Regions from separate parts of the Homo sapiens genome. Here region 2 is linked to region 1. Evidence: fine-mapped expression QTL. A gene starts in region 1. The other region holds a variant in brackets. All regions are shown on one strand. Distances are between the middles of the regions.

Region 1 (2,892 bases):
GTGTGTGTGCTGGAGGGTGTGAGGGTGTGAGGCTGTGTCTGAGTGATTGCACGTGAGAGCATGTGTCTGCATGTGTGACTGTGTGTGTGTGTGTGTGTGTGTGTGTGTGTGTGTGTGTGCGTGTGTGTGTTGGGGGCAGGAAAGGGAGCTGGTGTGGAGGGGCTCAAACTGGTGCAGGCAGAGTGGACAAAAAGAGAAAAGAGTTGTCTTTGAGTTGGGCCTGGAGAGCAGGAGAAGAAAAAAGGAGCTCTTATTGGTGGTTGTCAAGGAGATGGGCCTTGGGGTTTGCTGAACTTTCGTCCCTTAAAGCGTCCTGCCTGGAACTGAGAGGGGCCATTTATTTCCAGCCGCCCGTCCCTCCCAGGCCCGGTGGGACCAGACCCGAAGCCAACCCTCGCCAGGCGTCAGGTGTAGACCCCAGGCCAGGCCAGAGCAGTTCCTGGGTCTTCGGACCGGGATGCCCGCCCTGCCCCTCCTCCTGGCCCCGCCCGGTCTGTCACAGGGGGAGGCCTCGGCCTCGCATTCCGGGCAGCGAACTTCGCCGGCCGAGGTTAGCCCCGTGCGGGGGCCTCCCGCGGGACCGACCGCCAAGCGGCATTGTCCGTCCCGGGCGCCCGCCCGGTTCCAGACGCAGGTCCTGCGGCCGCCCCGTGACAAGCACACTGACGGGCCACTGTCCTTTGACGAGTGCTAAAAAGTTCGTTTGTTTTGAACGTCAATTTTCAAGTGATCTTCACGAGGTTTCCCCTCCCGGTTCCTTCGCTGCTGCCTCGCCCGCACTCGGTCCCCAGTAGGTGCTCAAGAAACGTCCAGCAAACGGCAGCGCAGGCGAGTCTGCTCTGCGCGCTGGCGCGTTTCACTGCCCACGGATGGCGGGCGACCTCACGGGATCCCCGGTTCGCAGGATCCCCGCCCCCGAGGCTGCCTCTGGGCCGGGAGGGGTTACCCCAGAGGGGCGTCCACTCTCGACGGCGGGGGCCGGGGCGCCGCGGGCAGGGGAGGGCGCAGCCTCCAAGCAGCCCCAGCCTGGCCTAGACCCCGCGCCTAGCGAGCCGGCCGGCCAGGCCCACACCCCCCACCTGCCGCCCGCCCCAGGGGAAGGGTCCCCCCGACGACGCCCGAGCCCCCCTCTTCCTCGGAGGGCCGGAGGCCGGCGCCCATTGGCCGGCCCTGGGCGACGCCCCGCCCCTCCGACGCCACGGGCCAATGAGCGCGCGCTGTCAGCTCATCAGCCGGGCTGGCTGGGCGGCTCGGGAGCCCGAGCGGTGGCGGAGCGGCGAGCAGCGAGCAGCGCCTGCGGGAGCGGCCGGTCGGTCGGGTCCCCGCGCCCCGCACGCCCGCACGCCCAGCGGGGCCCGCATTGAGCATGGGCGCGGCGGCCGTGCGCTGGCACTTGTGCGTGCTGCTGGCCCTGGGCACACGCGGGCGGCTGGCCGGGGGCAGCGGGCTCCCAGGTAAGCCCCCGACCGAGGTGGGGGGCGGCGGGCGCGGGGGGCTCGGGCGGCCGAGGCGCGGTCCCGGAGGGCTTCTTCCCCGCGGATCCCGAGCTCGCCCCGCGCGGCCCCGCGCCCCCTGCCTCTTTGCAAAGTAACTTCTAGGGCCGGCCCGGGGCGCCCCCTCCCCGCAGCCCGGGCGGCCGGGGCTCCTGAGTCCGGCGGGGCCGCACCAGGGGTGGGTGGGCCGGGGCCCCGGGAGGGGAAGCGCGAGCGCGGGAGCGAGGAAGAAAGGCGGCGGTTCCCGGGGACCCCGCGTGCGGACCTGGGCGGGGCGGGACCCCGAGCGCAGAGGGGCGCTCCTCCTGGGAGAGGGGGCGCGGGGCGGGGCGGGCGGAGGGGGACACGCCAGGAGGTGGACGGGGAAAGGGACGGACCGAGAGACCGGGACGGGGCGGGAGGTGCGGGACAGACGGACAGAAGAGCCGGCGCCGAGGGAGCAGACAAAAGGAAGCCCGGAGAAAAGACAGATGCGGAAGGGTAGAGAGGAGGCCCGCACCGCCCGGGGAAGGAGGAGGAGGCCGGTGGATCAGGGGGAATCAAGAGGGATGGTCCCACCGATGATAAGGGAGAGAGAGAGGAGGAGACGGGGGACAGATGGACGCCGCAGAAAAACGGGGTTGGGGGGGGCGGTGAGAGGGAGACCGGGAAAGAGAGAGGGACAGAGATACCTGGAAAGCCGCAGACGAGGGACCGGGACCGTCTGACAGGACGGGGAGGAAAGACAGAGGGAAGGAAGGCAGAGGATCCGGAGGACAGACACAGGGAGGAGAGTCCGGACGCGGGACGTCGGTGGAGCAGACCCAGGAAGGGGAGGGGGAGACCCGGAGGCCACAGGCCCAGGCCCGTGGGTTTCACGGGGACCCCCCCACCCTCCCACCCGGTCCCCTCCTGCTCTCTGTCTTCAGGGGCTTCCCGAAAAGCTGGAGTCACATTCTCCCCTCCTCGTCATCAGAGGCGCTTCCTCCGGTGCTCTGCTTGGAGGGGGAGGCAGGGGGAGGGTCCTGCACGTCCTTCCCGGCTTCCTGAGGTCTGGTATGGGTGGCGTAGGGTCTATTCCTGGTGGTCCCGCGTGCCCCGAGTGAGGATGCTGGGCCTGTGAGACTCTTCCACAGCAACACCCCTCCTGGAAGCCCAGCCCTGCTGCCCCATCATCCCCCTTGTGTCTGTGGGTGTCTCTCCCAAGCTTTGGGGTCCCTCACCTCTGAGTGACTGTTCCTGGGCGTGCCTATCCCCACCTGTGTCCCTCCTCGTGTCTCTCTGTATCTGACTCTGTCTCCTCCACGACCCTCTCCGTGGAAGCCCTGTGACTGTGAAACCCCAGCAGCATGTCCCCAGCATAAGCAAACCAGAGTCAAAGGGAGCAGCCTGTGCTAGGAGGGCTGGGTCGCCCTGCAGG
Region 2 (2,892 bases), 45 kb after region 1:
CATGAGCAGCGGCTTCGTGCTGCACCTGCTCACACTCGGTGGTGGTCTGTGTGTGCCAGGCGCTGTGCAGAGTACATTACCTCCATCACCTCCTTTGACTCCCAAACACCTCAGGGACTTTTATCCCTGTTTTATAGAGAAGGAAACCAAGGCCCAAAATGGTGAAATGACCTGCTCAAGGTCACAGAGCAAGTGACCAGCAAAGACTCACTGAATCTTTTTTCTTTTTTTTTTTTTTGAGACGGAGTCTCGCTGTGTCGCCCCAGGCCAGAGTGCAGTGGTGCGGTCTGGCTCACTGCAAGCTCCGCCTCCCGGGTTCACACCATGCTCCTGCCTCAGCCTCCCAAGCAGCTGGGACTACAGGCACCCGCCACCATGCCCGGCTAATTTTTTGTATTTTTAGTAGAGACAGGGTTTCACCGTGTTAGCCAGGATGGTCTTGATCTCCTGACCTTGTGATCCGCCCGCCTCAGCCTCCCAAAGTGCTGGGATTACAGGCGTGAGCCACCAAGCCCAGTCGACTCACTGAATCTTGTACTCCATCTGGTATGACTTGTAGAGCAACAGCCAGGTCCCATGGGCAGTGGTCACAGGGCAGCATCACGCAGACCCCTTTGAGGACTGGCCAGCGGTCTGCACTGGGCGGTAGACTCCCGTCCTTCCCTAGAGATGCACAGCAGGGGGCGGCAGGGCAGCGGCTGGGCTGGAAGGCAGGACTCAGGTTGCGGAGAGCAGAGTGAGCAGACCCCAGCGGCCAGCAGGCTTCACCACCTCTGCCTTCCCTGGGCTGGCTTGCTGGGTTTGGACGTGAGCAGTGAGCTTGCTGGTCTGGAAAGCTGACCTTACCATTCATGCGCCTCATCTCCCACCCTGAGCTTGGACTCAGGCCCAGGCCAAGAGGTTGGCTCTGTGTCTTCTGCACACGGCCAACCTGCTGGGGAATCAGGAGCCCCAGGGAAGACCTCAGCTGATGCCCAGACCAGGAAGCAGACAGGTCCTGGGAGACCCCAGGCATACCTCCTGCCGCCTGTGCCAGCAGCTCTTGACAGCTCGGAGAGTGTTCTGGATCTGGCAGAACCCAGGCCCCAAAGCTCTAAGACCCGTGTGTATTTTACCCAAAATCTAATCCATCTGGTTCTCATTTATTTACACTTAACTCATCAAATGCAATTTTGCAAGAGCCGCTAGATAGCCAAGAGGCTTTTCTGCCTAAGCCGCCCTTCTGAAAGGAGCCGGCAGGCGGTGGGGGCCTCAGCCCCCTGGGACCAGGTGGGAGCTCTCCGTGCTGGAGGTGGAGTTCGCTTCCTAAGATGGGCTGGGCACCTCTGCCTCTGTTTCTAGACCTTCCGTGGGAGCTGGGACACCGGAGCCAGTGGAGGGCCTGACACACAGTAGGCTCTTGACAGCCATGAAAACATGGGTGGGTCCAAGCAGAACACGGAGTCTCTGTTTCAAATCGGGAAATATTTGCGGGAAACACAAAGCAGCCAGAGCTGGATCCAGAAGTAATTTTTAGTTGTTATAAATAACTGTGAACCTGGACTCTTGGTCCAAAGTAGAAC[A/G]AACAGCCAGCTATTAATAAAAACAAACATCAGCATCTTGGGCCAAGAAGCACACCTCCCGGGGAAACTGGTCCTGCCTGCAGAGGCCTTTCGGAAGCGGGTCAACCTATGGCCTGCTGATGTCAGCTCTGGAAATTCTTCTTGCTGGAAAACAACCATGTCAATCACAGCACAGGGGTCCCCTCCCACACATCACCCTTCAGTGGCTGGCAGCAGGTGGAGGTGGCCTGCGCCTGTGAGGACCGAGTGGAGATGGGCAAGAGTCACAGCTGAGGGCCGTCCGCCGCCACCCCGGCCTCCAGAGCTGTGCTCATGCTGGGTACTGCACAGTGAGGAGGTGGGACCTGACCCCAGAGACCCTGTGGGACCAAGGTGCCATGTCCTGTTCCAGCCAGACTCATCACAGCAGCCACTGCCCATGGAGAAGGGATTGGGAGGGAGAGGCTGGAGGCTGAGACCCAGGAGAAGTGTGCAGCCTACCCCAAAGAGGAAGCTGAGGTCCAAGCCAGGGCTGTCTCATGGGAGCCAGGGAGATGGACGGGCAAGGTGGCGTGGAAAAAGTCAGCAGCCTTGGTCAGACCCTTGGGAGAGGGGCAGAAGAAAGGGGCTTCGAGAACAACAGGGTCCTCAGGCCTGGTGGCTGGGTGGGACGAGGGCCAGACCCTGACCAGTGAGGCCCCTCTTTTGTGCTCCAAATGCTCAGCCTTTCTTGACTCCTGTCCTTCCCTTCTCCCACCTCTGACCTCCCCCAGCTCTGCGGGCTGAAGGAATGGGAGTTCACAGCTCACGGGGAGCAGCCTTCAAGGACCTTCAGGCTCCCTGTCTTTTGTCCCATACCTCACTGGAGTGGTCTTTTTCCGAGGGGGTCTCCCAGCCCCACCTGCTGAAGGCCCCTGTGGCACGGCCCACCAAGGTTCCACCTTCTCTTCCTCCCAGCTCCCTTGCCTGCCATTTCAGCCTTGGCCCGGAAGAGGGAAGGGCTCCGGCGGTTCGATGGCACAATCACAGATACAGTTGTACATCAAAAGAGGCTGTGGACCAGTGCCTTCCAGCCTCAACCACGCCGGTCCAGACAGCTGTGAAAGGCTCCTCCCAGGACCGGGCATGGAGGGCCCGCTCTCCACTCTACCTCCCCCGTCTCTCTCACCAGTTGAAAGGATTTCCTGAAAGGAGCCTCCTAGAGTCTGCCCCAGAGCCCAGGGGACCTCCTGTCTCTTTGTAGCTAAGTCCCTGTGCTGTGCTGAGGAGCTCCGTGCCTTCTGGGAACATTTAGCTGTGGTCATAAATAAAGATGAAGGACCATGAGCTGCCAGCAGGATTCAGAGGCGGG

Evidence for each region.
Region 2: its variant is fine-mapped to the expression of SCUBE1 in aorta (GTEx, PIP above 0.99). The same link has a PIP of 0.9 or more in caudate, cerebellum, cerebral cortex, nucleus accumbens, prefrontal cortex and putamen.

The regions. Positions count from the first base shown.
Region 1 is chr22:43,341,736-43,344,627 of GRCh38, reverse strand. It overlaps SCUBE1 (signal peptide, CUB domain and EGF like domain containing 1), which reads left to right and starts at 1,256. Exons shown (of 22, transcript NM_173050.5): 1 at 1,256-1,454. The coding sequence starts at 1,367.
Region 2 is chr22:43,296,398-43,299,289 of GRCh38, reverse strand. The region is part of intron 3 of SCUBE1 (signal peptide, CUB domain and EGF like domain containing 1); the gene reads left to right. Among named protein-coding and RNA genes, the nearest start is that of SCUBE1-AS1, 22 kb to the right of the region's middle. The variant A/G (reference allele first, on the strand shown) is at 1,563.